Regions from separate parts of the Homo sapiens genome. Here region 1 is linked to region 2. Evidence: fine-mapped expression QTL. A gene starts in region 2. The other region holds a variant in brackets. All regions are shown on one strand. Distances are between the middles of the regions.

Region 1 (5,377 bases), 29 kb after region 2:
AAAAAAAAGAAGGAAAGAATTCATAATGTAAGAATAATATGGTTGGAAGAACCTATTTGATAATTATCATAGATGCTATATTTTTTCAGGTTATCCATGGCTTTTGTGGAGTCCATACTCCTTAGAAAGAGTTCAGCACAGGAGAGCACCCCGTGGGTCCTCTTTTGCTAGATGAGCTAGTATTTTAAAAGTACTTAGATGTAGACAAGCTCCTCAGGGTGACAACTAGCTTACAAACAGCATCCCACAAGCACACAATGCCAGTTTCATACTGCCCCAATGTCTCCAGACCTGCCTAGGGTCTCAACCGTGACTAGGCATTAGAACTACCCAGTGAACTTTAAAAAATATGATGTCCCAGCCCAGATCAATCTGTCCCTGTTTCTGGGAGGGGAGGCAGGTCTAGGCGGCTTTTAAAACTCCCTGGGTGGATCTAATGTGAAGCCAGAGTTAAGAACGAAGTCCTTAAGCTGTTCTGATTCCAGGTTTCTTTGATCTAAACCAAACACGTGTAGGTCCACAGCACTAGCTAAAAGAACTGAAGGATCAAAAGTTTCTCTGCCCCATCTGAAATTGCCAACATCAGATCCTCACTGAATCTCCTGCGCTCCTATTTCTGCTCCTCTCTCTCCCTCTTTTTCTCCCTGCCTTACTCTTTCCCTTTGTCCCTAGCTTTCTTCTCTCTCTTGCTCTCATCTCCTTTTCTGTCTGTCTCCTTATTCTCTCAGTTCTGCTTTGAGAAATCTTCCCCCTCAATAATATGCCTTTGATCCCTTTCACTTTCTTCCTTTCTGATAGTTTATCTCAGGAATCCACCTTTCTTATTTTTCATTTATTGTTCGATTTTTGTTTCATTTGTGAGCCAAACTAAAAGATTGTGTGTGTGGTGAGGGAAGAGCAGGAGGGCTGGAGGGCAATGATCCAGACATACACATAAAAACATTGAAAAGAAAAAAGTTCAAAAGGAATCAATGCCACCAACTTTCAAAGCACTTGAAAGCAGCCACAAGTCCCATTCCAAATCTCCCTATCCTGCTCTAATTAGACTTTCCTTTCCTTAATCACCAGCATTCAAGAAAACAAAAAACAGAACAACAAAAAAAACCCCACTATTTTGTTTTTAATGTAGTTTAATGTTCTTCTCTTTTAATTAAGGGTACTACAACACCACTGTGCTAGTCTTGGCTGCTTTCAGTATTCAGTTCTCCAGTTCAGTGGCTGAATGCCTGCCACCATGGTGGCTGTAGAGAGCTGCAGATTGAGAAATTTAAGATCTTAAGGAAAAACTGTTTGGAGGTCATCAAGATTGAGAGTAAAACCATTAGTAATGATAAGTTCTATACCATGAATTTCCATTTGACATCTCTTGCTCTCTGGAATCTCTTGAGGATCTCCCACATAGGCCATTTTAGTAAGGTGCTCATAAATCTGTTTAGCATTGTTGAAGATAAAACACAGACCAAAATGCATTGGTCTCTGTGACTGTACTCCCATCCCAAGTGCCCCACATATTCGACAGTTTCACCCAGCGAGTGTTTGTGCTTATCTCTGCCTCCGCTGTCCTCAGTCCTCTGTGCTGGAATTATTCTCCAGTTGTCACATGTGCTCCAGGAACAGCCATCTGAGACTGCAGCTCACATTCTGCGCTCATTTTTGCCATCCCTGTCTATTTCTCCCATTACCTCATTTAACCCTGGAAAGAGTGACTTAAAACTTACTCAATAAAAAGCTAATTCCTTGGGATTGTTGTAAATATATACAGAAAAGACTTCGGTATGCTAGGATTTATATATATATATAAAAGAAAAAAGGGGAAGAGTCAGACTGGTTCAGATTCCCTGGGCTTTTGCCAACTGACCTAGGAACCCAGACACAAGAATGGGAATGTTTCTGGAAAATGCTTCCTGAGTTCCAAACAACCAACTTACAGCAAATATGGGGCATAAAGTCAGCATACAGCTATTCAGTCAATAATTGCTGTTCTGAGAGTTGTGAATTGAGGACTGCCTAAGGTGATGGGAATCCAAGCGTGCTGTTTGAATAAATAAGACAATTTTGGCTTGTAAAGCCTTCTTAGCCTGTGGGGGATGCTTAAATGGTGCTGGCTAAGATTATTTGGAGAATCAACACTGACGGCCTTGGGGATGAGAGAAGTCAAAGGAGGACCACACCAGGGAAGTGGATGGGTTCCAACAGTTTCCACCTCCCTGGTGTGGGTCCTTGCTGCTGCTGTCACCCTGTCTCAGACTTCCTTGTTGCCAACAAAAACTAATAATAACCTGACTCCTTTCAGGAAACCAAAGATAAAGGAAAACAAATAAAGCAGGATTCAATGAGCTAAGGATCAATCGTTTAAGAACAATAATCTTTCAAACCAACTAGCTAATAATAGATGCAACAAATAAAAAATAAGCAAACATGATGAAAAAAGCAAAAGTAATATTAAAAGAGCTCAAAGAATAACTGAAAGAATAAAATTTTAAATAATTCAGAGTACATTTAAATAAAAATACTGTAAAGAATAATTAGTATGGTGAAATAAACAAATCTTTATTAAATACCTATTTTTTCTTT[C/CT]TTTTTTTTTTTTTTTGAGACGGAGGTCACCCAGGCTGGGGTACAGTGGTGTGATCTCGGCTCTCTGCAACCTCTGTCTCCCAGGTTTAACCAATTTTCTTGCCTCAGCCTCCTGAGTAGCTGGGACTACAGGCATGAGCAACCATGCCTGGGTAATTTTTTTTTTTGCATTTTTAGTAGAGATGGGGTTTCACCATGTTAGTCAGGCTGGTCTCAAACTCCTGACCTCAAATGATCCACCTGCCTCGGCCACCCAGAGTGCTGGGATTACAGGTGTGAGCCACCGCACCTGGCCAAATACCTAATATTTTAAAAGGCAAAATATTCTACATAAATTCAAACTCTGTTAATGGGTATTGTGCCAGAAATAGGCTATCAGTGTAAATATGAGCTACTAAATGCTTATTCATTTGTTCACCAGCACATATCAAGGAAACATTAGTCAGCCAGCTGAATTATGAAAATTCTCTCCCTATAATTAAATTATCATAGTACTAATTAAAACAAGTGTATACTTTTTATACCTGCATGTCCTTAAACAAATGTCCACTTCTATCTAGTCAAACACTAAATGAATGTATTGTAAACATTGCATGAATTCTAAATCCCAAAGACCAATGCACAGAACAATTTCATTTTGCTTTTCAAGATAGCAAAAAGACTGAGAATAAGTCTCGCTCACCCATATGAATTTCCTATGCAGGCATTATTCCCGGGTTATCTAGAGTTGAATTGTTAATGCTATTTAATTTTAATAGCCTTCTCAATTTTAAATCCTACTTGCAGAATGTGTACTCCATTTATGCTATTTCATGCTTGACTTGTCTACATATCTGGGGAAAATTTTTATTTTGATTTGGGTTCAGAATCAAAAAAAAAAAATTCGCAACTTGGAAACGACTAATATCTGAAAGCACGACCAAATAAATCTTCTCTCATTCACAGCACCCAGGAAAGCCAAGATTGGCATGAATGAATATGCTTTCCAAGCCCTGGCTTTTCTTGGGATCAAGAAGATTTTGCCTTGTATTTTTGCATGTACAGAAATAAGAACAAAAAGCACAAATATATATTCGATTTTTGCACTAAGTTTTGGGCTGCTTATACAACTTAGAAATATTTCTCTATGTATCCATCTTTCTATTTTCAGGTAGAGTCCAATGCCATGAAAGGAGCTACGCTGAGTGGAAGAACATCAACTATGTTTTTAATGGTCATTAAATGAAGTCTCAAAAGTGAAGATATCCAATCAAGTCCAATCCCTGGAACAATGTAGAAAAGATGGACCTAAGAAACCAAAATTGAAATGTCTTTTTCATGGATTTAGTGCAGATTCCCTTTAAGAAATTGATAAATTTCACTGTGGACTGGTTGCTAGGATACCCCTCAAAATCTATTAAAGTAAGCTCTTTCCTTTAAAGGACTGGGCAGGGTTTCCATTATTTCAAAATGACTTTGAAAATCATGCTGGGTGTTCCATCTAAGTGAATGAAACAGGTAAATGAATGGCCCTTAAGAAAAATAAATGACCATGAAGGATCTAAAAAATAATTAGGCTGTCTCATAATGATACATTTAAAAGTTAGCTTTGTCAAGGAGATTCAGATTTTCAAACCTGAAAGGAAGAAATAAAAATCAAATGTGAAATGGAAAATGTGAAGTTCCTTGGGGGTAGTTAAAGGCCTACTGTTGTAGAAAGCAAGGGACAGAGTTTACATTTAGAGTGGGCATGTTGTTTGACACTTATCATCTTAAATGTCATTTTTCTCTGGAACAAAAAGTAGCATGGGTACTTAAAATGTTTCACATTTTGAATTTCTGTCAATTAGTGAAAACTTGGTAAGCGCTCTTACAGGAATGTTCATATCCAGTTCTGTTACAAGGAAGGCAGGCTGGGGTAAAAAAGATGAATGAGTTCTAGAAAGGAAACTAGAAGCCTGACTCCTGAACTGAGGACACAGAGTGAATGTTCTTTGATATTTTGATATTCACATCTCTGGAAACTCATTACATATGGCTGTTTTCCTTATCTCTTTTCGTCAACTATGGATAAAAAATTCTGAAATCAAGAGTGATCCTGTATCACCAAAAATGGGAACTTTGATGTCAATACTACCTAAAGTGATCTACAAATTTAATGCAATCCCTATCAAAATCCCAATGTTTTTGCTTAAGCAGAAAAAAATCCATCCTAAGACTCATGTGGAATCTCAAGGGACCCAGAATAGCCAAAACAATCTTAAAAAGAACAACTTCAGAGGTTTCACACTTCCCAGTATCAAAATGTATTACAAAGATATAGTAATCAAAATAGTGTGATACTGGCATAAAGGGACATATAGACCAATGGAACAGAATAGAAAGCCTAGAAATAAATTATCCATATGTGGTCAAATGATTTTCAACAAGGCTGCCAAGACCAGTAAATGGGGAAAGGACAGTCTTTTCAACAAATGGTGTTGGGAAAACCAGATATCCCCATGCGAAAGAATAAAGTTGGACCCGTAGGTAACACCATATACAAAAATTAACTCAAAATGGATTAAAAACTTAAACTGAAGAGCTAAAACTATAAAACTCTTAGAAGACAACATCGGAGAAAAGCTTCATGACACTGGATTTGGCCATGATTTCTTGCACCTGACACCAAAAGCACAGGCAACAAAAGTACAAATAGATAAATTGGACTACATAAAAATTAATCATTGTACATCAAAAGACACAATAAACGGAATGAAATGGCAACGGATGGAAAAAAATATTTGCAAATCATATATCTGGTAAGGGTTTAATATCCAGAATA
Region 2 (5,324 bases):
ATCACAATTTCCTAGGCCAACTCACAACCCTCTCCATCCCTTCCCAAGCCTTCAGGTTGGCCCACAGGCCTGATGCACTCACCTGCAGAAAGCAGTGTCCAACCGGGGCATGCTCTGCAATGGTGGCATTGTACACCTGCCTCCAGAAGATGGGCTCATTGTCATTCACATCATCTACGGTGATGCTCACCAGGCAGGTGGCAGAGAGTGGGGGCTCTCCGAGGTCCTGGGCCACCACTTTCAGCTCCACCGCCTCCTGGACCTCTCGGTCTAGAGTCCGGATAGTGCTGATCGCACCGCTTTCGGAATCAATGGCAAAAGATGGTCCACACTCTGCGGTGTGGACCATCTTTGATTGCAGGGAGCCGAGATTGCAGGGAGCCGAGAGTTGGACTACAGTGTAGCGCAGCCAGGCGTGATCACTGCCTGCCTCGTCGGCATCGGAGGCGCTGACCCACATGACTACAGTGCCAGGGGCCGCGGCCTCGGACACTGAGGCCTTGTAATGCTGTTGGCTGAAGAGAGGTGGTTGGTCATTGAGGTCAGCGACCCGGAGTAGCAGCGTCTCCTCCGTGCTCAGCGGCGGGGACCCCGCGTCCGTGGCCACCAGTAGTAACTCATACAGATCGCGGCTCTCTCTGTCCAGGGGCCCCTCCACGCAAAGGAAAAATACCCCTGGGGGGCCGCCGGGTAGCAACGCGAAGTCTCCCTCTCCGCCTTCCAAGGACAGAGAGATGCTCCCGTCTCCAAGACCCACACCAAGCTCCCCTGTGGCCTCATCTTCCTTCTCCCAGTCACCGTCCGCGTCAGACACCGAGACGCGAGCCACGTAGTCGCCCGGTCGGGCGCCTTCAGAGACACGGGCGACGCCTCCCTCTGTGAGAAAGAGCACGTGAATTGCTGGCCGGTTGTCATTCACGTCCAGCACGGCGATGGACACGCGCACCGTGGCAACCTCAGGCTCGGCGCCTCCATCGCGGGCCTCCACCACCAACTGGTGCCAGGCCTGTGCCTCGCGGTCCAGAGGTCTCCACACTCGCACCACGCCGCTCAGCTCCTCCACCGCGAAGTAGGCCGCGTCGCCCAGTGCCCCGCCGCCGCTACCCGCCCCAGGCACTTGCCGGGCGCGGACGCTGTAGCGCACGAAGCCATTGGGCCCCAGGTCGCGGTCGGTGGCGCGCACGCGACAGACCTCGGCGCCCGGCTGGGCGTCCTCGCGCACCGCGGCGCGGTACTCGTCCTGCTCAAAGACCGGCGGGTTGTCGTTCTCATCCAGCACGCGCAGCTCCACGCTCAGGAGGCCGGTGCGCCGGGGTCGGCCGCCGTCCCATGCCTCGATCTGCAGCCGGTGCGCCGCCGCCTCCTCTCGGTCCAAGCGCCGCAGCAGCACCAGATCTAGAGGCTCCAGGGGTGACGAGGAGCCTGGCAAAAGCGGTGACGGTAGTGGCCCCGGAGTCCGGTAGCGCAACTGGAAGAACGGGCCTGCGGGGTCCTTGGGCAGGTCGGACGGTTGCACCAGGGTGTAGCCCTGAGTGCTGAACAGTCCGGCGTCCGGATCGTGGGCAACTGGCAGGCGGAAGGCGGTCCCTGGCGGGCTGAGCTCGGAGACGTCGAGTTGCAGGGAGTCGAGGGGAAAGCGGGGCGAGTGGTCATTCACGTCGTTGACGCGAATCTCCACCTGCACCACAGCGCCCAGCAGCGTGGCGGCGACGAAGCTGTAGTGGTCCCGCCGCTCGCGGTCCAGGCGCCGCGCAGTGCGGATGATGCCGGTGTCCGGGTGCACGTGGAAGTCGTCCAGCAGCGGGGAGTCATCGGAGTCCTCCGACAGAAAGAAGCCGCTCCCCTCCTGCTGCTGCGCGGCCGGCAGCCCGGCGCGGATGTCACCTACCAGCGTGTCCGGGGGAAGCCCCTCATCTACGGAAAGGGTGAGGTTGAACAACTGGGCAGAGGAGCCCGAGGCCGCCCACAGCCACACGTGCACCAAGAGCCAGAGCAGGGAGCGCTGCGTCCTGGCGCCGCTGCTGCCTGACCGCCCATGGGGTGTATCTCTCCTCCCGGGGAGCAGAAGGAGCTTCCCGACCGGAGCCCGCCGCTGCTGACGCCCTTCGCCCATCTTCCGCCCACAAGGGCTCATTTCTCCTCCAGCTCCTTGGGAAGGCTCTCGGGTAACTGCCAGCTTGTGGCAGGATCGCAGAAAAATCCAGGAGCCTCTTCAGTGTCTGAGCCAGAGAAGAAAAGACTTTGTTTGGCAAACAAACCGACGGCCCAGGAATTCCCGAGGTTACATCTGCAACTGGTGAAAGCGTCCTCTGCCTGCAGCTCACGCAGACAGGGAAGTAAGCTCTAGCTGCCTCTGCCGCGGCAGCCACCTCTTCTGCCCCTGGATTTCTTTAAACGAATCTCATCTCTTTTTCTCTCTCCTTTTATTCCCTTTACATCTGTTCCTTGTTCTACTCGGCTGGTTGTTCCCCCCTGGTAAAGTCAGGTGCATTATTTCTTTTGCCAAAAAGGAGGAGATTATATGAAGCGCGCACACACAAGGAGAGGATGGGGATCTGGCCGGAGTAGGGGGTGGAGTAAGGGCGTGGAGGCAGGGAGTCAGGGCGCTGGGGAGGAGGGAGAGAGGGAGGGGGGAAGGGAGGTCTGCGGCCCTGTCCGCTGCTCCGGGGGCGGGGCGGTGGTTCCCCACTGTGTCTCCGGGCGCCAGGGACCGCGCGACTCCTGCTCCGACCCAGCCTCCGCCGCCTGCCTTCCCCTCCCTGCCGTGTGATGCGGCGCACACGAGGGCAAACTCCAACCTGCGAGCCGCGCTCTGCAGCAGGGCGGAAGAGGAGCAAATGCAAAAGCACTGGGAGACGTGCACCGCGGGGCGGGTGGGGGACGCGCAGGCGGGGCGTCTGCCTGGGCTTGGCCAAGTGCCAAGTGATGATGGGTGCGGGGAGGTGAGAGGAGCGGCCTCTCCGCGGCCTCCCCCTCCATCCGCTTGACCGTCCCTCTGCAGGCCTGACTCTTGGCTCGCGCTGAGCCAAGAGGGTAGAGGTTATCATCACTTTGGGGTGCCAAACTTGTGTTCTCCATTTGGCGAGAGGGACTCCCGTCCGCAGCGGAAGGACAGATGGAGTCAAAGGCCGATGCATAGCTGGGGCCAGGATGGCTTTAAAGGGGAGAAGGCGGAACTTGGAAAAGCCTTCCAGAAAACCCGAGAAATCTGTGGCACACATGGTGCAAACCACACTTTATTATGCGTGCTACTACCCAGCGACGTGTGAGCCTCTTGTCACTCCCCTCTGCCACCAGGAATGACGACAATATATCCGCCCTGAGAACCCTTTTTCTACATTCAGCGCCATCATAACACTTCCAGGATGTCTGACGATGCTGACTGATGAGCAGAAAGCCCTGGTGGCTGACACCCCGCAAGCCCTCAGCGCTCCCCCACCACCCCTAGGCAAGGAAGTGTGCAAGCGGGATAACTCTACGGATACCACTTTCAAAACTAGCTTCTGTCTGAGCCGAACGCAAATGCCAATAAATAGCCATAGTCGCAGATTTCCCTTCAATTAACTATAATAATCGGTAGAAACTGATCAATGGCCTCTAATAAAGTACGCCTGAGAAAAGACTCTCTGGACTCTTAAAAATGGCTGACCATATTTAGCAAGTGGTTTCTGCAATTTTGCATTTGGGCCTGAGAGAAGAATTAATTTCCTAGATACCGTTTCTCTCCTTTAGGGAGGACCAAAAGCCCTGCATAGTGGTTTCTTGCAGCAACAACAAAATGCCTTTTTAAATGTGCAACGGAGGTGTATGTAATTGCTAATCCACAGCCACACCGTTATCTCTACCTGTGACCAAATAACAATAAAATAATTGACTTTGTAGCATATATGTTACCGAAAATGGGGACATTATTAAAATAAATTCAGCTTTCTTTCCCCCAATGAACTCTCTTTAACCATTAAAGAGATTTGTTATGAGTCTTTAGAGTCTTTTTATCTTCAGTCTCTGCATTTGCACCCTAACTAGTCCCTCCCCTCCCACTCTTGCCCCTTTATAAGTAATTCTTTTCTGTTTTTGCTATTGTTGTTGTTGTTGCTGTTTTGTTTTCTGAGTCAGGATCTCACTCTGTCACCCAGGCTGGAGTGCGGTGGTGCAATCATGGCGCACTGCAACCTCATGGACTCAAGTGATTCCATCACCTCAGCTTCCAGAGTAGCTGGGACTATGGGTGCCCACCACTATACCTGGCAAATTTTATATTATTTTATTAATTTATTTGTTTATTTTTTTTACTTTTGTAGAGATGAGGTCTCACTATATTGCCCAGGCTCGTCTCGAACTCCTGGGGCCAGTCTTCCTGCCTAGGCCTCCCAAAGTGCTGGGATTACAGGCTTGAGCCACCGCAACCAGCCTATAAGTAATTCTTGAACAAGCATCTGGATTAATGTTTTTAAAGCTGTCTCAAATCATATTACCTCCTGCTTAGAACCTGAAATGATTCCATTATACTTAGATTATAATTCAGACTCCTTCAATCAAGCTCCTTTTAGTAGTACAGGATCCTATCCATCTTTCTGACCTTGCCTCATACCACCACTCTGGACTCAGCCATCTGCCTTCTTTTTGATCTTGTACCTTTGAATTGTTAGAACTTTCCATGCCTGGGAGTTCTTTTTTCTGCTTTGGAAAGAGCTAGCTCTTTCTCATTCAGGTCTCAACTCCAATGCCCTCTGTTAAGAAAGATCTTCCCTAATTACCCTATTTCAGATAGCCTTTCTACTATAAATGCTATATCCTTTCAGTATATTTCATTCACAACACCTATCAGCATCTGAAATCAACTTGCTTTTTTCATTTGTTTATTAGATTATTACAACCTCAAAACCTTCATTCTGCTTTATCTCAGCACCTAGAACAGTACCTAGCATGTAGTGTGTCTCTATTTACTAAGTATGTGTTGGACAGACGGTTGGTTGAACCTATGGGTAAGTGAATGCATTTGTCTGTTAAAGTAGAAGTTGGAAGCCATAACCAAGAATGAATTGGCCATGAGAATCTTCACTGTAATGAATTATGTCTTTGCAATCTTACTCATCTTAATTATTTCATAGGACTTCTTGAACTTATTTTTCAGCTTCGTCAACTTACTTTGTAAACCATTGTATTAGTCTGTTCTTGCATTGCTGTAAAGAACCTGAGACTGGGTAATTTATAAAGAAAAAATGTTTAATTGGCTCATGGTTCTGCAGGCTGTACAGGAAGCATGGTGGGATCAGTTTCTGGGGAGGCCTCAGGAAACTTACAATCATAGCAGAAAGTGAAGG

Direction of the effects. Alleles are on the strand shown, and positions count from the first base shown. SD is a standard deviation of normalised expression in the study named.
For the expression in prefrontal cortex of the gene that starts at base 2,578 in region 2, allele CT in region 1 goes with a lower level than allele C (moderate effect, 0.44 SD a copy in ROSMAP).

Evidence for each region. PIP is the estimated chance that this variant, and not a neighbour inherited with it, causes the effect.
Region 1: its variant is the best candidate, but not a certain one, in a credible set for the expression of DCHS2 in prefrontal cortex (ROSMAP, PIP 0.51).

The regions. Positions count from the first base shown.
Region 1 is chr4:154,517,844-154,523,220 of GRCh38, forward strand. No RefSeq gene overlaps it. Among named protein-coding and RNA genes, the nearest start is that of DCHS2, 29 kb to the left of the region's middle. The variant C/CT (reference allele first, on the strand shown) is at 2,575.
Region 2 is chr4:154,489,222-154,494,545 of GRCh38, forward strand. DCHS2 (dachsous cadherin-related 2) reads right to left here and starts at 2,578. Exons shown (of 20, transcript NM_001358235.2): 1 at 83-2,578. The coding sequence starts at 2,134. RefSeq lists enhancers at 406-1,362, 1,363-2,318, 1,787-1,926, 1,977-2,156, 2,959-3,008.